7 linked regions of the Homo sapiens genome follow. The protein of the gene in region 2 interacts with the protein of the main gene of each other region in a pairwise test. Each region holds a gene or a part of one and is shown on either strand. Other genes may lie near its edges. The genes, in order: FOXO1, SIRT1, RRP8, FOXO4, ZBTB38, CREBZF and CSAG2.

Region 1 (3,670 bases), on a different chromosome or scaffold from region 2:
ACACAGCATATCCCTTAGGCATCAAAATACATACTTTTTCAAGTACATGTGGTCTTCTGTTTCACAGCTGAGGAACACCACCAGAAGCATCAGAATTCTTTATGTACCAAGAAAAGGTGCTTGGTTATATGACCCCAGGGAGATCCTGGGGGGGCTGGGCAAGTCTCTGCAAGTTGTTGCTACAAAGGCAAAGGCAAATCTTGAACTGCAGGGAAGCAGACCAACTCCCACACAATTGAAAATTCTGCCTTCCCCAATCACTATGTGGTATTTACACTGCCTTTCCAAGAGGATCCCCAAAAAGCCCCAAAGCTACAGCACATATAGGCCAAAAAAATGGCTGGGTAAATTCCCATGATGCCAGGGAACTGGGTAGTTTCCAAGGGCAGAGTGTTCCAGAAAAATGCAAATCATTCAGGCTTCCCCAGAGAAATTCCAGCCAAATACAGCTGCTATCTTAGAAAGCCTAACACAAAACTGCAGTTTAGATGCTTGGATGAAGGGGCTAGAAGCACAAGGACAGGCAACATGTTTACAGTCTGCAAGGCATTCTAACTTGCCACTGAATATTCTTCCCCCTCATCCCATTTCGTATCGCCTCGGAGAAGATTCCTTGTGTGTGCGGAGCATGAAATCTATGTGTCTGCTGCTAATGTGATACCTTTTCAGCAATTTTGGGATCTTGAAGACCTTTAACTTTTTTCAAGTTTACATGAGAATTAAAATGCCTTATTTTCAATAGTCAAGTGTTTGTCACTTAAAAAAAACTAGTCCATGAGCAGTGGCTCGTGCCGATAATCCCAACTATTCGGGAGGCTGAGGTGGGAGGATCACTTGAGCCAGGGGCAGGCAGAGGTTGCAGTGAGCTGAGATCAAGCCACTACACTCCAGCCTGGGCAACAGAGTGAGACCCTGGCTCAGAAAAACAACAACAACAACAACAACAACAACAACAACAACAACAAAAATGAGAATCATTCAAAAAGAGGCCACTCTTCTCGCCATCCCCTCAACCAAGGACATGCCACAAAACCATGCGTAAAAAGTAAAGCTCTTGGGAGTCTGAAATGAAGTATTCCAATTTGGCATCTATTTTGGAATTTCTGAACAAAATGTTTTAGCTCTCAAATAGATTCAGGTAACTTTCAGCCCTTAATAAGATGCTACATTTAGCTGCATAACCCCCTCATCCATTTTAAATTATTTCTTCATTATCGCTTCCCCAAGTACATATACAGGATTATCAAGGCTTTCTTCTTTTTTTTTTTGGAGACAGGGTCTCCCTCTGTTGCCCAGGTTGGAGGTCAGTGACGTGATCTCGGCTCACTGCAACCTCCGCCTTCTAGGTTCAAGCGATTCTCCTGCCTCAGCCTCCCGAGTAGTTGGGATTATTGGCACGATAGCTGGGACTACAGGCACCTGCCACCACACCCGGCTAATTTTTTGTATTTTAGTAGAGATGAGGTTTCACCATGTTGCCCAGGGTGGTCTTGAACTCCTGAGCTCAGGCAATCCGCCCACCTTAGCCTCCCAAAGTGCTGGGATTACAGGTGTGCGCCACCACGCCCAGCCTATCAAGGCTTTCTTTAAGGTAATTTCAGTGACAATCCAGAAGTAGGAAAGATGTCTCAGATCCTCTAACCACTCGGTCTCACCAGGATTCTCTAAGTCAAATGTGACCATGCAACAAAAAAGCAGCCATCTTTCTAACGGGATCTCTGTGGCTGGTTCAATTACTCACCTATAGATTATACCCAAATTACAGAATATTTATTTCAAAACATAAGGAAATCCACTGTCAGTTCATAGGCCAAATAAGAAACATCACTCCCAATTAAAGATTTATCTTAAAAATAAAAAGCTTTGGGGCCAGGCACGGTGGCTTACGCATGTAATCTCTGCACTTTAGGAGATCAAGGCAGGCAGATCACGAGGTCAGGAGTTCGAGGCCAGCCAAGCCAATATGTGAAACCCCCTCTCTACTAAAAATACAAAAATTAGCCAAGCATGGTGGCACGTGCCAGTAGTCCCAGCTACTCGGGAGGCTGAGGCAGAAGAATTGCTTGAACCTGGGAGGCGGAGGTTGCAGCAAGCCGAGATTGCGCCACTGCACTCCAGCCTGGGCAACAGAGTGAGACTCTGACTCAAAAAAAAAAAAAAAAAAAAAAAAAAGATATTTATCTTTAAATCAAAGAGGATACCTCTAATAAAACAATCTAAAAATTTATTTAACAAGAGTTAAGTGGTATAGTCAAAGTCATTCTTTTAACCTAAAGTGTTCCTAATAATATCAAAAGAGTCAACTCAAAACTGCCATTTATTAAAAAAAATCAGAGTTCAAACTACCACTTCCCAAGCTTTAGAAGGCTTTCTATGTGAAAAAACAGGTCATGGAAATGAAGTTTCATTATTTATAAATACTGCACTAGATTTAGAAGATCCCGGGTTTTCCAAAAGTCTTAGGTTCCACTTTGTGTGTGACCTTATAGCAATTCTAGCCAATATTACAACAAGTGTAAGACATTTAACATACCATCCCCACAAACACAAAATGCATATCCTTCAAATATAACCAGCACTTAACTATCTAAAGAATGACATTAAAAGTTTTTGAATTCATTAACAGTTTTCCAACTAGTTTGTCCTATGCAAATGACTCAAACTTTCAGGCAGGCCCCAGGAAGCAGCACACAAGAAACTATTTAATTAAAGATTCAGCCTAATTCCCAGTAGTAAATCACAGGAAATATTTTGTGCCAAAGCAACCTCTCCTCGGTCCTAAAACAGTTAAGTTTTGGTTGCTTTGCATTTAAAAACTGGATTTAAGTTAAAATTCATAGTAAAATTTCTCTTTTATGACTCTTAGAACAGGAGTCTTTCAGATCTGAGAGTGAAACTTGGTTTTAACAAGTAACTCATTTTTATGAAACTAACCAAAAGACTAGTTATGAGTTAGAACAGCTCAGGTTGTTTCTTTTCTTCTTAAAATACCCTTTTACTCAAACTGAAAATGTACTTGCTGCAATCAGACTTAAACCAACTGACATTACACCTGAAACACTTACTCATTTGAGAAAGGCAGCCTACTCCAAAGCAAAGCCCCATTAGGCTCCCACTGGGAGCTGCCCAAGGGCCTCCAATTCCAGACAGATAACTTAACAGGTCTCCTAGCTCTGGCAAATAAATTTAAAAAAAAACTAAATTATTCTTGCATTTTTAAAAAAATCAGAACAAGAACCTGATAAAAATGGTTGTAAAGATGATTTAACATCAGAATCTATTTTTTAAAAACCTAAATCTTAAAAAGTGTAAGCATATTCCTAGTTTAAGACTAACACTCTGACAATGCCATTTGAGACGCAAAACTAAAAATATCCCAAAACACTTCCTTTATCTTTAAAGAAAGGCACTCCAGCAAGTTGAAGTAGGTTGTATCCATTTCCAAGGACTAAAGAATGGTGTAAGTACACACTGTACTTTGAATGCAAAAAAAGGGGGGAGGATTTTTTTTTTAAATGGCTAATACTCTGTAACAGCTGAAGTGGAATTGATAGATGAGCAAGTAAGTCAAGTACTTAAATTCAAATGTTAAGTAAAACAAGATTTGGCAGACAATTTCGATTTTGTGACTTAATAGAATATATGCTGAACTTAACGGTAAGAAGGCACT
Region 2 (3,670 bases):
CTGGGATTACAAGCATGAGCCACTGCACCCGACCAATGACTCCATTTTAATATACTATTCTTCCTCTTTCGTAATGACATGATTACCTCCATATATTGCTAAGCACACAGGACATATTTCTGGATAATTTTTATTTTCTGCCAAATTTTCCTATATTTTTTGGCAATGAACATGTATGAAATAATTTTAGATTACCATAACTAATTTAAGGTCCAAATCTGACAGGCACAAAAAGGGAGAGGAAGGAGAAAAACTACTACAACAACAACTTGCTTATGATCTGACATTTTATGTTCGGCTTAGATACTAAGAAGCCAATTTCATAATTTGAAGAGCCTTTATAGGGCTGTTTTCTATATAAGGTATTGAAAGGTTCTCGTGTATTTTACCAAAATTCCCAAATGCTAACTATTTTCTTCCTGAATCTTTCTGTACCATATATACTTTAAAGGGGTAAAAAAGGATTTTGAGGCAAAAGAAGAAATACTTCAGAGACATGAACAATTCCTAAAATATGGGCAACAAATTACCTGATTAAAAATATCTCCTCGTACAGCTTCACAGTCAACTTTGTATTTACAAATCAGGCAAGATGCTGTTGCAAAGGAACCTAAAAACAAACAACATATATATGCTTTATTAAAGAAGTATTTCTGTTTCTTGAACACACCACAAACGTTATAAAGTTTAACATCACAAATGTTAAGAGGGTTTAAGGATTTTTGTTTTTGTTTTTAACTTTGATTTTAAACCTCAGAACACACTGCAGATTTTGTGATATACTACAGGAGAATCTAGGGGATGAAGAATTTATATATTTATACATAGAATGAATATGATTCTCAATCTCTGAGACACTAATATAATGATGCCTTCTAAAGCTACTCTTTTCAACAAAACTGTAACAGCTCACTCCTCCAGGGCTAAAATCCTGCAGAGTTGGACAGTTCCAACTCTATTACCTTAGCTCGGCAGTTCTTAGAAACACTTTAGATACCTAATGGCCTGTTGATACTTGTTTTAAACATTTCTGAATCTCTGAATCCTGTACATCTCAACTATCCAGTTCTTTTAGTTTCATAAACTAAAGATGTCACATTTCTTCATTAACAGCTAATACTACTCTTGTATTCAGAATTTCTTTTTCTTTTTTTTTTTTTTTTTTGACAGAGTCTCACTGTCTCCCAGGCTGGAGCGCAATGGTGCAATCTTGGCTCGCTGCAACCTCCAACTCCCAGGTTCAAGTGATTCTCGTGCCTCAGCCTCCTGAGTAGCTGGGATTACAGGCGCCTGCCACCATGCCCGGCTAATTTTAGTATTTCTAGTAGAGTTGGGATTTCACCATGTTGGCCAAGCTGTTCTCGAACTCTTGGCTTCATGGGATCTGCCCGCCTCGGCTTCCCAAAGTGCTAGGATTACAGGCGTGAGCCACTGCACTCAGCCAGAAAAGATTATTTAAAATAATTGAATGCATGCAACTGCAGCATCTTTTGAAATCAAAAGCAAATTAATATCTGAGGTTTTCTATAATTAACTGTCAAGGCCAATACTTCTGTTTTTATTATTTTTGTTTTCTACTTTTCTGAGGTTATCGATAAATGAGATAACATGATTAAATAATGCTTTATCTCCACTTCTCGATGGCAGTCAGCTTTATAGGAAATATCTTCCTATAAAACTAAAATAAATTACAGAAAACCACTCTGAAGTTTACTAACCATGACACTGAATTATCCTTTGGATTCCCGCAACCTGTTCCAGCGTGTCTATGTTCTGGGTATAGTTGCGAAGTAGTTTTCCTTCCTTATCTGACAAGGCTATGAATTTGTGACAGAGAGATGGCTGGAATTGTCCAGGATATATTTCCTGTATCAAGCAAATGGTAGAAAAAATTTACATTAGTGAAATAAACTACAGATGTCATATGTTTAACAAAAAAATACTGATAATCCCACACACATAATTTTAAAAATGAAATAGATGAGCATTTTAAAGTATCTAGATGGATGCGACACACACCTACAAAAGGACGGTTGCTGTCATATGCATAAAACTCAGCAATTAGTGAACTTGGCCCCTTGAAGAAAAAGACAAAGTCGGCCCATAAACATCTCTAAGAAATGTTGATATTTTAATAAAAGTCAGAAGTAATACAACCTTAGGATATCTAATTTTTGTTGGCTGCAAATTCAGATTTTTTTCTTTAAAGAAAAATGGGAAAGTTTAAACTAAAATTACAGATATCAAGGTAGGGTGATTTAAAAAAAAAAGCACTGTCAATACAAGAATATTTAAAATTTTTTTTTGATTTATCATTCATTAGAATATCAACCTGCTGGAAGTTTAAAGCTAAAGTTTTAATCCTTACCAAAATTGTTTTCCTTCCACTGCACAGGCACATACTGGTATAGTATAGAGTTGCTCATGAATGCTGAGTTGCTGGATTTTGTGTGTGTGTTTTTCCCCCCAAATAATGCTTCAATGCTGTTTCTTCTTTAAAAACAAAGAATTCAGATATACACATGGCAAAAAGATCAGAGAAAAAGTATCAATTTTGGTCCTCCCAACTTTTGACAGTGTTTTTATTAAATTCCATTTAGTAAGTGACTATGGCAAAGGAAGTTTATTCTCTACTTTTTCCTTCAAAGTAGTAGTGCTATCATCTACTTACTTCCTTACCATTCATTACAGGCTCTAATCTATCACAATGCTAGCAAAAAACTAGACACAACCATATGTCCATCAATAGGGAACCGGTTGTATAAATATGGTACATCCATAATAGTGGAATATGTAGCCATTAAAAAGAATTGAGGGAGATCTAGATGAACTGCCCTGGAAAATGGTTCATGACATACGTGAAAAAAGCAAATTAGTCACCAGTATGTGTAACTTTTGTTTTTGTTACTAAGCAAAAATTGAAATTATATGCATATGTATATAGAGATGTCCATTTAATCAATCAAGTCAGGAAGGATACAAACAGGCTGTAAGCAGATGTGGGGAACTTTCACTTCTGACATTATACAAAAAAGTTTAATAGAGATTAAAGATGACTTTTTACCTATTTAATCTTTCAAATTAAAAAAAAATTCCCACTGCAACTTCTAGGTTCTACTACCCAGGCTTCTAAGTAAAACTTAAGTGAATTCCGTTAACAGCTATCACATACATGTACACATGCTGCTAAAAACCTCGTATAAAGAATCCAAAAACGTTGCCTTAGATTCAAATATTTATCACAAATTTCATGAATAACTCTTTGCAATTTAAGAAATAGAGAGTGCATATAGTAGCAAGGGAAAAGCTTAATAAAGTCAATGTTTACAGAAAATCAAAAGCCACTGTTTTGGAAAAGTGAGTTCAGTTAAATCAACCACTGTTTTCTTCCCCAGAATGCTTTGTTCTAGTACATTTACATTTGAGAGATTAAGCATTGTATGTCTCATTAAAGCTCCCTCTGGAAATAGCTTTTAGAGTATTTTAGGCACTATGAGAATATGCTAGGCAACAGATAAAATAGGACCTATAATAGTAAGCAAGTGATAATAGCATGCCAAATGCAGAATTTAAAAAATAAAATAACTCCAAAGCAAGGTCAGGGAAAAAGAGCAAGTACCAAGACTCCACCGTCCCTGAATTAACTGTGTGCCTTATCCACGTCCACCCC
Region 3 (3,193 bases), on a different chromosome or scaffold from region 2:
CTGGCTGGGCTGCACTTCCAGTTTGGCAGGACAAATATGCATGCATTTCCTGTGGGTTCCATGAAAGGTAACCAGTCTTGAGGGTTTGTTGGGACCATTCCCAGGAGAGCTGCGTACAAGGGTGAAGCACTTTAGCACGAGGAGGCTGTGGGTACATTGTCAGGGTCAGGGGCTGAAGAGCTGAAGGGCAGTGTGGGCTGTGCATCAAAAAGAGGCAACCAAAGTCAGTTAGTGCCCCAGTCCTCATGGAGAGCTCCAGAGAACCCCAAGAGCTCACAAAGGAGTCAACAGTTAAATGCCTGTCTGCACAGAACACACCAATGGTACCTTAATCACGTAAGCTGAGACTTTCTTCGTTTAATATGCCCTCCCCCATTCCAATCCTAGAAGAGACAGGAAGTAAAGAATGAGTGAAATAATGACCATGTTCTCCCAAACCACTGAGGTAGAGGAACAGCAGCTTTAAACTGGATAAGTTGCTGACAGGTTCCTGAGATGTGGGAAAGGGTGGGGATGAAAAGCATCATACATACATATGTATATATAATATTATATATTATACATATATATAATTGTTTTATTTATTTATTGAGACAGGATCTCAGTTATCCAGGCCGGAGTACAGTGGCACAATCATAGCTCACTACAGCCTGAAATTCCTGGGCTCAAGCAATCCTCCCACCTCAGCCTTCCTAGTAGCTGGGATCACAGATAAGAGCCACTGCACTTGGCCCAAAAACATATTTAAAATGTTAATACTTTAGATTGGTTTCAGTCATGTTATAGGGAATAATGGAACGTATTTATACCAGAGTATTAACAATGTAGAAGGACCCTTGAAACGAAGCCAAAAAGATAGGGGCTGTGGCAATTAAGGAGACTTCCAAGAAGTCTAATACTAAGTAGGGCATCCCTGCTTAATCAATAACACTTCATTTCGTGACCATGAGACAAGAAAACTACAGAGACCTCATCCCTAACATCCTTCAGCTCCAGAACCAATGCCAAATCACCTAACTCCAGGTTATATGACAAAAAAAAACATCTGTTTAGGACATTCTTTAGTGGGATTTGTTTTTCCGGTCACAGTCACAATGACGGATTTAAAAAAAAAAGAGTATCTCAACTTCCTATTGGGAGTACATGTTTTCCCCTGATTTTAAACTCATGGGACAAAAAGAAAGTGTTGACTGGCATCTGGCAAGATAATTAAATATCTGAAACACCCTGAAGGAAACAAAGAGGGTACTGTGGTCAAGAGTAAGGTGGACAGGATACCATAGAAGATATATCCAGTGTATATAATGATAACTGCTAAAACACCCTCAAAACTCACTAGCAGAATGTAATCAAGTTTATTTTCTTGTTCAAAGTCCAATATGGATGTTTTTGGTCAAGTAGCTATTATGCCCTAAATAGTAACTCAGGTATTCAGACTTCTTCTATGCTATGACTCCATCACCGTCAAAACATGTGCTTCAAGGTTACCTTGAAGAGGAAGGAGGAAGAGAATAATGGAAATGGCTCAGCCACCCTTTAACTGCCTTGGTCTAGTATTGAAACATCACTTCCACTCATTTTCCACTGTTGAGAACTACTCACATAGGCCTAGATGCATGGAGCTGGGAAATGCAGTTTACCTGTGTCCAGAAAGAGGACATTTGGGTGAGCATCTGGCCAGTTTCTTCCACAGAAGCAAAGGTAATAGTGGTATGAATTCAGGAAGATGAAAATGAGCTCACTGGGGAAAGAGTATTCAAGGAAGATGGAGCATGTGCAAAGACTCTCAGTAGAAACAGTTTGGAAAGCTTGAGGAATAAAAAGCAAGTCTGTGTGGCTGGAGTTTTGTGAAAGGGGAGGAGTGGGTTAAGATGCAGATGGTGATGGTGACGGAGGCCTGGGCAAGATCACACGGGGCCTGAAAAGTTTGTCTTTTGTTCTCGAGGCAGTGAGAATCCATTGAAGGATTTTAAGCAGAGAAGTGACATAAGCTGATTTACATTTTAAAAAGATCACATGGCTGTGTGGAAAATTAATTGCTTTAGGGACACGAGTAGAAGCAATTAGACCACCAGTAAGGCAGTTACTGCAGGAGTTGGGTATCCTAAAACCAGATGGCTGGTCAGAGAATTCACCTGGGAAGGAGGATGACCAGGGGATGAAAGGTTCTAATTACTGGTCTCTGTGAAAAGCTGTAGAGAGTTTTGTGCAGTTACATAAATGGTTGGGTTTGGAGCTGAGCGGTGTCTCTGCCAAGATCATGTTGTTTCTTTTAGAACTGTGTTCCCTTAGGACTGGACTATATTATGGGAACAGAAGCTGGAGCACACCAATAACTGCAGAAGCAGTAACTATTTATTTGGAGAACTCTCAAAGGGATGCTGAACAAGCATGAGGCACGGATAACCAAACCCAATTTTATTCTTGTCTCTTACCACCCTCCAAATTTTATTCACTGGGAGGTACTCTCCCTGCTATGGAGAAAAGCTGCAGCGAGGTTGTGATGTTCTTAATAGATAGTCCTGTGATCAGTTTAAGGAACAAACATAATCTCAATTAATTAGAATGTCTAATCCTGTGTAACAATAATCTGCACCTGTTGCAGTTTTAAATCCCTTTTTCCTCTCCCAGCTCTGCCCCAGCTAAGTCTAGGAGCCTGCACTGGGAAAGGGAGGAGTGATTGGTATGCTCTTCCCTCTGCTCGGCTCCTCTCTACCTAATCACTGCTGATTGCTCTGGGCCCAAGTGATGAGGAGAGGTAAACAGATAAATCATTTTGCCCTGACTGGGTATTTCTATGCACTGTGGGCCTGGAAGATATTTCCTCTCCCCTATTCTCACTCTCAAATGATAAACTGGCTTCCTGCTCCCCTGAAAAAAAATCAAAGCAATCAGAAATGAACTTCTGGGGCCCTATCAGGAACTCTGGAAGAGGGCTTTCATAATGGAGCAACCTCTTACCACTGCCATTTACCTCAAACAGGCCCTCCACATTACTCAGCAATCCTTACCCCACTGCATTCTGAGTTCTCTCTCATCTCAATAGCACTCGACAGCTAACAACCTGCCCATCCTCCCATAAAAAAAAAAAAAAAAAAAACACTGGCTGGGCACAGTGGCTCATGCCTGTAATCCCAGCACTTTGGGAGGCCGAGGCAGGCCGATCACTCGAGGTCAGGAGTTCGAGACCAGC
Region 4 (2,761 bases), on a different chromosome or scaffold from region 2:
AGGGGCTTGGGACACAGGCCGACGCCCGTGGCCAGCTTACTGGAGGAAGGAAGCCCCCCCAGCAACAGAAGAGTCGGAGCCTGGGACAGAATGGGATCTACCTGGGTCATGAGGACGTCAGCAGGGGGTGGTGGCGTATCAGAGGTGAGCAGGGCCTCCAGAGCCTGGGAGCTGGAGAAGCACCCTTCTCCTGCTGACAGGGGCCCCTCTGCTGGGCTGAAAAGGGAGCTGCTGTAGGTGTGTAAGGGGCCGGTAACCCCAGGATGCTGCAAAGAGAAGCCAGAGAGACCACTCCGAGATAGCAGGGAATGGGAAGAGGTGAGATTGAGCCCATCTAACAGCTCTAGACCTTCATTGAGGGTGGGAGGGACACCCCCTGCATAACTGCTGACTGAAGCTGGTATTTCCTCCGCCAGCACCTCAGACTCTGGCCTCAAGGGGGACAGCCGGGTGCTGACACTGCTGGCATTTGAACTGCTTCGTGGACGGAAGGTGGTCCACATATCGGCTTCTTCACGGTTTCGAGAGCAAGGGCTGCCTGACCACTTGGCAAAGTGGCCGACAGGGCTCGTTGGAGTGGCACCTTCGGGTGGAGCTGGCAGCACAGATGGTTTCTTCTTGGGGGCTTTACTGCGGCCCCGGAGCAGCTTGCTGCTGCTATCCATGGAGGCGGCCCGGCGGCGGGGGGCTTTGCCGCTCTTGCCTCCCTCAGGGTTCAGCATCCACCAAGAGCTTTTGCCGGTGGCCTCGTTGTGAACCTTGATGAACTTGCTGTGCAGGGACAGGTTGTGGCGGATCGAGTTCTGGAGGGGCAGAGATGGCAGGAAAGGGGCGTGAGGTACTGTAGGGGAGGTCAGTGGCCAGCGGTCAAGTCTAAGAGGATGCTGGACCCTGATGATCTAGGGTTTAGGATTTGGTGCCACCACCGCAGCAGGGTTCATTTCGGGGCTTCATTTCCCAGGTCATTAAAGTTTAAGAAAAACTTTAAATAATTTACAAAAAAAGAGAAAAAGATAAAAGATAAAAGGGTGCTGGAACACAGCAGGGGTATTCCTGGAGACTCAAAGAAAGTTGAATCCAGGGGGGAAAACTGGTAGAAGTAGGGGTGGGGGTGGGGTGTGAGGGGAGACCACACACATTTCCCGCTCCCAGACAAGCTGCTCAGCCTCTGCTCCAGACTTCTCTGTACAGCGGGTGGGAGATAACGTGTAATAATCCACTGCAGAGAGCACGGGGGATGCCCACCCTGGAAAAGCTCCTGGTACTCTGCTCTTCCCAGGGCTTCGTGTGTGTTTTGCGGGGGGTGGGGGGAGCGGTACCTGGGGCTGGTGGGCACTGGGGAGACGTGCTCCTTGCCCAGCAAGAACTAGGTTCAGGTGGGAAAGAGCATTGCACCCCTTTCCTTGAGTGCAGGTTTGGGTAGAGTTTACGGGACAGTGGTACAGCACCAGCCCAGGATGGACCCGCCCTGCCCAGAGCCAGTTCTCTGAATAGGCTGAAGGGCTGGAATCTCAGCACAGCAGGTGCTCCATTCCCCACAGAGCATTTGGGCCACCCAGCTCTCTATAGAATTTAAAGATTCCTTTTTCCCCCCTCCCTGAATCCCAGCCTTATTTCTTCCAATCCACAACACACATCCTCAACTACATTCAGTTCAGGTTCAGGCTTCCTGCTGTGCCTCAAATGCGTGAGGTGCAATCTTCCCCTCCCCTCTTTTCCGAGGAGGGATCTCCCCTCTCTAAGTTTTACTAGTTCCGTCAAGACCAAGCTTCAGTTCCACCTCTTTTATAAAGCGGCTGCTTGACTTTGGCAGCCAAATTTCTAGTATAGTATTTTTAAAATCTGCGCCACACAATTTCACCCAATTTATATTGTGTGGCTTATGGTTTCATGTAATTCGTCTCATCGAGTGTAAGTGCCAAGTGTAATGTCCTCCAGTCCCACATCCCCCATCAAAGCCCTCCCAGAGCACCAAGCTCACAGCACATATTCTATACCTACTCAAGCTCACAGTACATAATCAATATTTGTACCTGATTGGTGGGTTGCCCCTGGGTTGACAATGGTGAGGCTCCCCTTGAGGCTCTGCCAGCTCTTCAGTGCCTTGGGTATTGGAAGCTGTATGTTTTCCCTTCCTCCCTCACTGGTGACATTCTACTAGGGAAACGATGCTTTCCAGTGGCCCAGGGAGCTGAGATTGGCAGCTTCTTCAGCCCCCAGTGCAGCTTATATTTACTGATTGCCGCGGGGCAGGCTAGTTACACAAGGGGTTTGGCCCTCCCCTGGCCACCCCCCTTCCCGAAACCTGCCTTCTTTTCCCTACCTCCTTCCCAGTGCCTTTCCCCCATTTCTCAGGAATTTGTGCATAAACTCTTCAACCTTGGGGGCATTTGACCTCCCACTTGGAGGTCTTTAGTTTAGAAATTCAGGAGGAGCCCAGAAGTGCTTAGAGCAACTAGGAGGCTGAGTACATGGGACGGTCAGAAACTACTTGTTTCTCTGACTGGTGCTCTTAAGATAAGGAGCACCTTTGCCTGGGGAATGATGCTTCTTGTTCCAGGGTTCTTTAGCCAAAGAACTCCTTGTGTTCCTGGGACCCTGAGGTAATGGCATTTCAACTGTGCTGATGTTCCTTCAAGGAGTGGCACTTGTCCATCCGGCCTCACCTCATAGTAACTAAGGACCACAATGACCATGACCTGGCACTATGATTTCTCCTCTTTTTATCCTCTAATTCTGGATCTACTTGAGAAGATCCATT
Region 5 (3,670 bases), on a different chromosome or scaffold from region 2:
CTGAATATTTGTTGAACTGAATGCAGCATGTCAATAGTTCTCAGGCATTAATGCAGAAGAATTGGGAGGGCAGGTTAAAATGCATATCCCCAGGCTCCTCCTCAGAGCTTCCAATACCACTGGGGCCTAGCAGCATGCATTTTAATGTGAGAAACTAAAAAAGACCAAGGTTTTGAAATAGACATTCGTACCTTTCTAGGGGCCAATTCACCAATATGCATTAGAAACTTTAAAAATAGTAGAACACTAAAGTGAATCAAAATGTCCAACAACAAAAAACTGATACATTAAAATGTATCAGTGCAATGGAAATAGAGCCATTAAAAATCATGTTTTCAAAGACCATCTAGTGATTTGGTAAAATGTTTACAACATAATGTTAAATGGGGGCAAAACACCACATAAAATACCATCTCAACAATTTTTAACATTTTGATGTATTTTTTCCAATTTTTTTCTTGTATATATTCTTCTCTCTTTTTAAAAAGGAGAGAATGGGGTGGGGTTGGGGTGAGGGGTTATACTAATGCTCTTTTGGACAAAGATGAGGGGTCCACTCTCTCCACTCTGGCTTGGAAGGCACTACCCAAGGTCAATGCCTCCGTGGAGGAGTTTCCAAGCCTCCTTATCCCAATGCACTGGGAGCCCCATAGAATGCCAGGAATCATCTTCTTTTGGCAGAGAGATGACTCATCCATCATTCCTCAAAGGTTTCAGTGAACCCCAGGTTAAATGTCCCTGTGAATAAGATCAGAAGCCTCTCCATGGGGAGTCTGGCCTACAATCAAACATGCTTTGGCTAGTTAGAAGTGATGCTAAGGCTCCCAGATGAAAGTCAATTTAGAAAGACAAAAAAATCTTTAAAATAATGATAATAACAATATCAAAAGTCAAAGCACCAATACTGACCATAATTATGATGATTATTTTTTATCAACACTTTTTTTTTTTTTTCCTCTGTTGCCTAGGCTGGAGTACAGTGGCCCAGTCGTGGCTCACCACAACCTCCGCCTCCTGGGTTCAACCAATTCTCATACCTCAGCCTCCCAAGAAGCTGGGATTACAGGCATGTGCCACCAAGCCCAGCTAATTTTTGTATTTTTAGTAGAGGCAGGGCTTCACGATTTTGGCTGGGCTGGTCTTGAACTCCTGGCCTCAAGCAATCTGCGCACCTCAGCCTCCCAAAGTGCTGGGATTTCCGGTGTGAGCCACCACTCCCGGCCTTTATCAGCAGTTTACCTTGACATGCACTTTTCTAAGTTGCCCATATCATTTTGCATATATCACCTACTTATTCTGACAGAGTCTCAGCATTACATTTTCTAACAATACTATTTTGGAGGTAGGAGGGAGCTTTAAAGTTCTGATGAAAACCAGAAGCTTCTTGAGTTAAAAACAAAACCCTGAAGTGTGGTATTTTCCAACTTGGTTCTTGACAAGAAATTAGGGGATTTCAGTGTGAGAAATTATAAAGCCCTATTACTATGAATTCTTAGTTTTGGTGAATATGATGTGGTATTTCTGCAAAACTCTCTAAGGAGAGTGACAGAACATTCATGATGCTGACCCATGGGGAGAAAGGAGCTTGCACACCTGTGCTATGACAATTCTAAAACCTCAGGGATTAAAATACTCAACTAGTGTAAGAGCTGCCTGTGTGAGACTGTGTGCTCAGTCCACATCTGCTCATCATGGCTCAACAAGGCCAGGCTCAGATCTTTAGATGACCTAAGCTCTGAAAAGACTATAGTGCCTCAAATTTGAATTATTACTCCCATGTGAAATTAAAATAGAAAAAAATAACAAAATACAAAATTAAGGTTGAGAAAGCTCAACAAAGTCTAACTTTTCCCAGGCTGTCTCCTTTGATGCTTTTTTTGAAATGTCAAATATCAAAATATTTACAAAATGTGTGTTTGTACACAATCCTGCTTTGCTGATGTTGTCTGTGAGGTCACTCAGCATCCAGTGGTCACAGGGATCTATGGCTTTCTTTCAAACACAAAGTGTTGACAGTAGTGAAATTCTGGTACCTGATGTGGTGGTCTTACTCCCCTTCCTGTAGTAATATGCAGCTAGAAATTAGAAATCAGGAGGCTGGCCCCCTCCCCCAACCCTAACACCATTCATATGTCAACTACTGCATACTTAGTGCTTTGAGGAGTCATAACAGATGGTAGTTGAAATTAGCAAGCTGTGATTAGCCATTCTCCCACATGAATGGACCCTGATGTTGACTGAGACCTTTGGCTCTGCCCTTCCTGAAAGACTCTGTTAGGCTAGGACTTCCAGCAACACATCATCCCCATTTGGCTCCAGCTTTTGAAATCTGGCACATATTCTTAACTTATTCCTTCAACTGCACCCTTCTAGCAGGCACTGTATTCCCCATTCACCTGGTCTTTTTTTTTTTTTTTGGAGATGGAGTTTCTCTCTTGTTGCCCAGGCCGGAGTCCTGTGGTGTGATCTCGGTTCACTGCAACCTCTGCCTCCCAGGTTCAAGCAATTCCCCTGCCTCAGCCTCCCAAGTAGCTGGGATTATAGGTGTGCGCCACCCTGCTCGGCTAATTTTGTATTTTTTTTTAGTAGAGATGGGGTTTCACCATGTTGGTCAGGCTGGTCTTGAACTCCTGACCTCAAGTGATCCACCTGCCTCGGCCTCCCAAAGTGCAGGGATTATAGGCATGAGCCACCATGCCCAGCCCAACCTGGTCTTATCATTAGCTTATACCACTAGCCCAGCCAGCTCCCCGATCAATAGACACTTTCAGTTCCTAACAACTTGGAAAGACAGACTTTCAGAGGCTGAAGTATTTTTGCAGCAACTCATCTTGTTATTCTATTCCATTCCTCCTCAGCTCCATCCTAATGTAAGGGGACTGGGCAGAGGCTAGGCAGCCATAACAGGAGAGTAGGCCAGGCATCAGCCTCTGTCAGATATCTGAGAAGCTGTGGCAAATTGGCCAGTAACAGGTATCCCCACACAACAGACAATACATGCTCTTCAGGGTGTGGATGTGGGTGCCAGAAAGGTCAAGTCCAGGGGCAAAAGTCAATCAGAAACCAGAGTGTTTAGTCAGATATTGACAAAACTAGAGAACTAGGTACCAGGCACCTCAGGCAAAGACTTGAGTTCATTTTTATTTCACACCTTTAAGTCTGGGGCATCACAAGGCACCCATCATATGGTTTATATTTACGAATGAGGGGAATACTTCACCAACATCAACAATGGTTAGAAGGTTACATAAAATGTTAAACTTATTAAAAGTTCTCCAAACAGAGCTTACAACTTTACCACTTATTATTTCAGTAAATGTTTTGAAACTTTTCCTGAAAATAAAAAGCTAGACATATATATCACATCTTTTGGGGTAGCATTAATAGCCCCAGCCTGAGACTTTTTAGTCTACTTTTAAATGTTTCTCGGCTGGGCCCGGTGGCTCATGCCTGTTATCCTAGCACTTTGGGAGGCCAAGGTGGGTGGTGGATTGCTTGAGCCCAGGAGTTCAAGACCAGCCTGGGCAACATGGTGAAACCTTGTTTCTACAAAAAATACAAAAATTAGCCAGGCATGGTGACACATGCCTGTAGTCTCAGCTACTTGGGAGGATCGCTTGAGCCTGAGAAGTTGAGGCTGCAGTGAGCCATGATCGTGCCACTGCACTCC
Region 6 (2,331 bases), on a different chromosome or scaffold from region 2:
AACACTCAAAACTCTGGATTGTTTTATTTCATTTTTGTTGGATTATGTTAATACATTCCTTCACGTGGTTTAGATTGAGTCATTTTATCTCACTTACTTGGAAATGTGCAGCTGATAGAAGAGGGATTGGGTAGGAGATTGGCTTTTACTTCATAATAAATATACAGTTGGTTATTGTATTATTCAAAACTTATTAAATCCATTCAGTTTCTTACCATTTTAAGTGTATTCAGTGCCTGTGAAGCCAGGCAGCAGAGTATTCCCACTGGCTTAAAACTTAGGCGCTGATGCTCCTACAGTACAGCTAGTTATAATTCCAGAACCAAAGGCACCAACATTATTTGGTGACCTTAACTACTACTTTGATAGAACAGACTGGGTAATTCACTGATAATGAGTCATTACCTTTTTAATATGTGATTATCTAGTTCAGCATTTTGAATGTGTAGTTTAAGGTCTGATTTAGTAAAATTTTAAAGCTAAATAATCTGATGACTCTTGAAAGTTTAATTGGTAGTATGACATTTATGTTTTTTTCCCCCAGACTCACAGCCAATACAAAGTTTTGAGACTCCTAAATGTTAATATTTTTGCTGTTTTTCTGAGCTGTTTTTTTATTTACTTACCACCTAAGCTGCGGATCAAAAAGGGAATTCTTCCATTAGAAATTTGTAGTGTTGTGTGGCCAGCACAGTATTTTTCAGATTTGAATTTCAGTACCTCTGTGTAGCCTCAGTACTCTCAACACCAGTCACTCTTTATTGTCTTAAAATATTCCATACTTTTTGTTGACCCAAAATTGTTGAAAATATTTTGCTCAGTTTTCACAATGAACTAATTGAAAAGTGTAGTTACTGTGTTGTAAACATTTGTGTAGTTCTGTTAATACACTGATTTGAATTTTATTTATCTCAACTTCCTTTAGCGTCTGCCTCCAAATTTTGTCTTTGCTGTATACCCACTGAGATCAATTCCCTAGACCCCTCTGGCTCTTAGTGTACTATAATTTGGGCTTTATAAAATATATTGTCTTAATTTAAATAGAATGTGAGCCCTCTTTTTTTTTTTTTAAGCCAAATAACTACACAAAGTAAATTATAAAAGATTTAAATAGTTTGTCTACAGTGACTAGACTGAAATATAAAAATTGATTGAGGGTAGTTTACTTCAGGTGTTAGCTACAAATGACTAAATGTCCTTAAATAATGCAGATATCTGCCCTCTGAACAAAAATTTTGGCAAAGTAAATTTGTAGCAACAGACTTAACATGATTTATTGCTTATGTTGCCCATTTCTGCTAATGGAAAAGATAATTTAAAAATATGTGGCAGAGGACAGATATTAGAAATACTTTTTGGTTACAGAAACCATTGTAAACTCATCCTCATTTATAAATGGTATTATGCTAGGGAGTAATTGGACTAGGAATGTTTAAAGATAAGTAAGGAAACAATGTGTGCTCAATCGTCAAAGAACTTAGTTATATCATTGGGCTTTGAATTATCTAAGTTGATTACATAATTCTATATTCTTAAGGAGTCTTAACTCGGTACTTGGGTTAACGCCAGAAATTACTTTTAATTCATTGTTTTTTTCACTGGGATGAGTAGAACTCTGCTTTTAGTAAAAGTGACAGAATATAGGTAAAATGGATGATTTGGGATCAGAGCTTTTCATCTTGATATTTTAGCCTGTAAAATAAACAGCTATATTGTTTTGCCCTTTAAATGTTATATATATTTTTCTGTCTTTCTTTCCCTAGTTGTAAAAGTAAAGCATATTCTTTATAGAAAACTTGGAATATCCTGAAAGGAATCAAGAAGAAAAGAAAAATCACCCTTATAACTCTATAAGCCATAGAATATCCACAGTAAACATTTTGGCATGCTTCCTTTCAGTCTCTTGTGCACATAGATTCTTTTGCCTCATAACTGGGATCATTTTTTATATAAGTTTGGTAGATAATATATTTTATGTGCCTGTTGAAAGAACAAATCATCTTTGCTTTCTGAAAAATTGAGATTGTATTTTATTAATTTCACATGAGTTTTTCATCTTTGGCAGCACAGCTTTATGTTTTTCTTTAAACAGAAGCTAAAGGCCAGTTTCACTCACAAAGATGCCTTTTCTAAATTATAATTTTAAGTAGCATAAGATGACTTAACAGATATGTCACTATTTGGAAGTAATAATTAAGAGATTCATGAATAATCTTGGATGCCACTTAAAATTTTGTTTGGTACTTTTCTGTGATGATTGGCTTGCTTCATAAGTGTTGGTTTAGATCTACGCTGTCCAATACTGTAAGCATTAGTCACGTGGCTAAACAT
Region 7 (3,157 bases), on a different chromosome or scaffold from region 2:
CATTAACTACTCTGACTAAATAAAACAATAAGAAAAGCACCGCATTCAACAATAGCAGAATAAACAATCCTCTCAAGTGTGCATGAAATATCTCCCAAGATAGATGGTATTCTGGGCCATCAAACAAAGCTTACAAATTGAAAAGAATAGAAATAATAGATAGCCTCTTCTTAGGCCATAATATAATTAAACTCAAAACCAAACACCAAGATATCTGAAAAATGCCCAAATATTGGAAATTTTAAAATAAGCTCCTATATAACCTATGGGTCAAAGAGGGAGTCCCAGGAGAATTTTAAAAATACATTAAGTTGAATGAAAGTAAAAATGTACATACAAAAAGTGGGATTCTGCTAAAGTGTGTCCTTGAGGGAAATATATAGCATATTTTAAATGTTTATATTAGAAAATGAAATCTAAAATCAATAACCAAAAGTTTCACCCTAGGAAACCAAAGAACGAAGAGCAAGTTGAATTAGAGAAATTGTAGAGGATGCCCCCCTCCCTTCCCACACTCCCACCTCTTTCCCCTTACTCCCTACCCCTACCATTTGAGACACACAGACACACACATCATTTTGCAACATGTTCACTTTATTTTCATCACCATGGGGCACACTCTTTGGGGTGTAAAATGTACTCTACACCCTGTTGGCTATTTATCTGGGGTTAGACCTCTGGAGACTTTTCAGATAGACTTGAAGTCTCTGGCCTTGCCCGGGAATTACTGGCTGTCCGAAGAGAGACTGGAGAAGGTGGTGGTCTCCTTGCCCTTGTGGTCCCGCTATGGCTCATTTTGATTGAGTTCCTCGTTCGGCTGGTCAGAGTGGCTGGATAGTGTTGGCCCACTCCATTCCTCAGGTTTTTTTGAAGCGGCGGTCTTTTAGGGAGAGCCTTTTGTTCCTGGAACTTCCTTGATGGGTCCCTTTTCCCTTCCGGGTTGTCTTGGGAACCTAGAAGGAAACAGGGAGATCAAAGAAGGGCACTGGTTTGGGGAAGAGGATGGAGGAGGGGTGAGAACAGGGGCTTCATAGAGAAATGGTGCAGGCTGGGGTGGGGGTTGTGCCAGGGGAGGACAGGGTAGGAGTCAGAGCTTGGGTGGGCCGTTCACTTTGATAGGGCTTCTGGGCCAGGGTTGAGAGGATGCCTTCCACTTCCTCGCCTCTTTGGTGTTGGTGGGTGGTTGTTGGACAATGGGCTGGAGGCTCGTGGTTTCCTGGACATCTTCACCAGACCAGTGTCTCTCAACAGTCTACTCCAGTCCACCTGGTCTCTCCAAGCCTCCCCCAGGACAGTGAAGGCAGGCCAGCAGGCTAGAAACTCACAGCGCATTTTTATGTTAGTCTTGTGGTAGAATTCCTTTTCCAGGAAACCTTGGTCTTTTCTCTTAACACCTTCAACTAATTGGATGAGGCCCATCCACATTATGGAAGTTAAACTGCTTTACTTAAAATCAACTGATTGTAAATGTTGATCACATCTACAAAATACCTTCACAGCAACATCTAGACTACTGTTTGACCACACAGCTGAGCAGTATAGCCTAGACAAGTTGACACATAGTACTAGCCATTGCACATATCTTGCACCATACAGAAATGTAACTCAAAATGAACTACAGACTTTAAATGTCAAAATTACTTTTTTTTTTTCTAGGAGGAAACAAAAAAAAATTGTGTCACCTGAAGTTATGTCTTAAGTCAGCTCAGGCTGCCATAACAAAATGCCATTGAGTGAGTAGCTAAAACAACAGAAATTTATTTTTTTTCTCACAGTTTTGAAGTCTGGAAGTCCTAGATCAAGGACTGGCGGGGTTGGCTTCTGGTGATGGCCTTATTCGTGGCTTGTAGATGGCCCTTTATTAATCTGTCCATTCTTGGCCTTTCCTCTGTGCATGTGCAGAGAGAGAGAGAAAGAAAGAGAGAGAGAGAGAGAGAGAGAGAGAAAGAGAGAGAGAGAGAGAGAGAGAAAGGTCATGTAGGCACAAAAGTACTTTCTTCTGTCTCTTCTCCCTTCTTATAACCAAACTAATTCTATGGGATCAAGGTCCCACCCTTATGGCCTCTTTTAACATTAATCACTTCCCTAGAAGCCTCATCTCCAAATACAGACACCCTGGGGCTGAGGGCTTCAAAATATGAATTTGGTGGAGGACATAAGCATTAGCAAAGAATAGACACACAGATTAATAAAACAGAATAGAGCTCAGAAATAGACCTGCACGCATATAGTCAGGTGATTCACAACAAAGGCAATAATGGTGAAAGTACAGGTTTTCCAACAAAAGGTGTCGGAACAATTAGACACCTATACACAAATTATAATAACCTGGACATATCCTTACATATTCCATGAAAACTAACTCAAGATACATCATAGGTCTAATGAAAAATGCAAAAACAATACAACCTCTATAAGAAAACATAAGAGAAAATCCACATAACTTTGAGTTTGGTGATGAGTTTTTAAATTCAACACCAAAAGCATGATCAAGGAAAGAAAAATTTGCCAAGTTGATTTTATTAAAATAAAAATCTTATGCTCTTCAAAGGACAATGTTAAGAGAATGAAAACAGAAGCCACAGACTAGCAGAAAACATCTGCGGTACACATATGTGATAAAGAACTTGTCTCTACAATATATGCGAATTCTTAAAGCTCAATGATAGAAAAAATGAAAATAGTCAAAGATCTGAACACACACTACACAAAAGAAGATATACACATGGCAAATAAGCATAATAAAAGTACTGAGCACCCTTTGGCATTAGATAATTGTGTACTAAAATGGGATACCACTGCACACCTATCAGAATGTCCAAAATCCATAGAAAACCAAAACAAAGAATACAAGACCAAGAACAATTGCCAGCGAAGATGTGGAGCAACGGAAACTCTCCTTCATTGCTGGTAGAAATGCAAAATGGCACAGCCACTTTGGAAGGCAGTTTGGCGTTTTCTTAAAAAAATGAAAATAGACTTAGCACAAGATTCAGCAGCCATACTCAATCAATTTACCCAATTGATTTGAAAACTTATGTCTACATAAAAATTTGTATATGAATGTATACAATAGCTTATTTCATAATCACCAAAAATAGAAGCATCCAAAATGTATTTCATTTGGTGAATGGATATATATATATATATATATATA

The links.
Region 1: the proteins of SIRT1 (region 2) and FOXO1 interact in binary tests that used the Homo sapiens proteins (3 or more experiments, as listed by UniProt).
Region 3: the proteins of SIRT1 (region 2) and RRP8 interact in binary tests that used the Homo sapiens proteins (3 or more experiments, as listed by UniProt).
Region 4: the proteins of SIRT1 (region 2) and FOXO4 interact in binary tests that used the Homo sapiens proteins (3 or more experiments, as listed by UniProt).
Region 5: the proteins of SIRT1 (region 2) and ZBTB38 interact in binary tests that used the Homo sapiens proteins (3 or more experiments, as listed by UniProt).
Region 6: the proteins of SIRT1 (region 2) and CREBZF interact in binary tests that used the Homo sapiens proteins (3 or more experiments, as listed by UniProt).
Region 7: the proteins of SIRT1 (region 2) and CSAG2 interact in binary tests that used the Homo sapiens proteins (3 or more experiments, as listed by UniProt).

Annotation. Positions count from the first base shown.
Region 1 is NC_000013.11:40,660,025-40,663,694, forward strand, and holds part of FOXO1 (forkhead box protein O1), read right to left. Parts: intron 1-3,670. UniProt on the Homo sapiens protein: Transcription factor that is the main target of insulin signaling and regulates metabolic homeostasis in response to oxidative stress.
Region 2 is NC_000010.11:67,904,986-67,908,655, reverse strand, and holds part of SIRT1 (NAD-dependent protein deacetylase sirtuin-1), read right to left. Parts: intron 2,494-3,670; exon of another isoform or gene 2,402-2,493; coding exon of another isoform or gene 2,369-2,401; intron 1,867-2,368; coding exon 1,719-1,866; intron 611-1,718; coding exon 531-610; intron 1-530. UniProt on the Homo sapiens protein: NAD-dependent protein deacetylase that links transcriptional regulation directly to intracellular energetics and participates in the coordination of several separated cellular functions such as cell cycle, response to DNA damage, metabolism, apoptosis and autophagy.
Region 3 is NC_000011.10:6,594,505-6,597,697, forward strand, and holds the end of RRP8 (ribosomal RNA-processing protein 8), read right to left. Parts: 3' UTR 568-3,193; downstream 1-567.
Region 4 is NC_000023.11:71,098,726-71,101,486, reverse strand, and holds part of FOXO4 (forkhead box protein O4), read right to left. Parts: intron 804-2,761; coding exon 1-803. UniProt on the Homo sapiens protein: Transcription factor involved in the regulation of the insulin signaling pathway. Binds to insulin-response elements (IREs) and can activate transcription of IGFBP1.
Region 5 is NC_000003.12:141,371,401-141,375,070, reverse strand, and holds part of ZBTB38 (zinc finger and BTB domain-containing protein 38), read right to left. Parts: intron 1-3,670. UniProt on the Homo sapiens protein: Transcriptional regulator with bimodal DNA-binding specificity. Binds with a higher affinity to methylated CpG dinucleotides in the consensus sequence 5'-CGCG-3' but can also bind to E-box elements (5'-CACGTG-3').
Region 6 is NC_000011.10:85,657,388-85,659,718, reverse strand, and holds the end of CREBZF (CREB/ATF bZIP transcription factor), read left to right. Parts: 3' UTR 1-1,729; downstream 1,730-2,331.
Region 7 is NC_000023.11:152,707,688-152,710,844, forward strand, and holds CSAG2 (chondrosarcoma-associated gene 2/3 protein), read right to left. Parts: upstream 1,587-3,157; 5' UTR 1,426-1,586; coding exon 1,112-1,425; intron 954-1,111; coding exon 884-953; 3' UTR 574-883; downstream 1-573. UniProt on the Homo sapiens protein: Drug-resistance related protein, its expression is associated with the chemotherapy resistant and neoplastic phenotype. May also be linked to the malignant phenotype.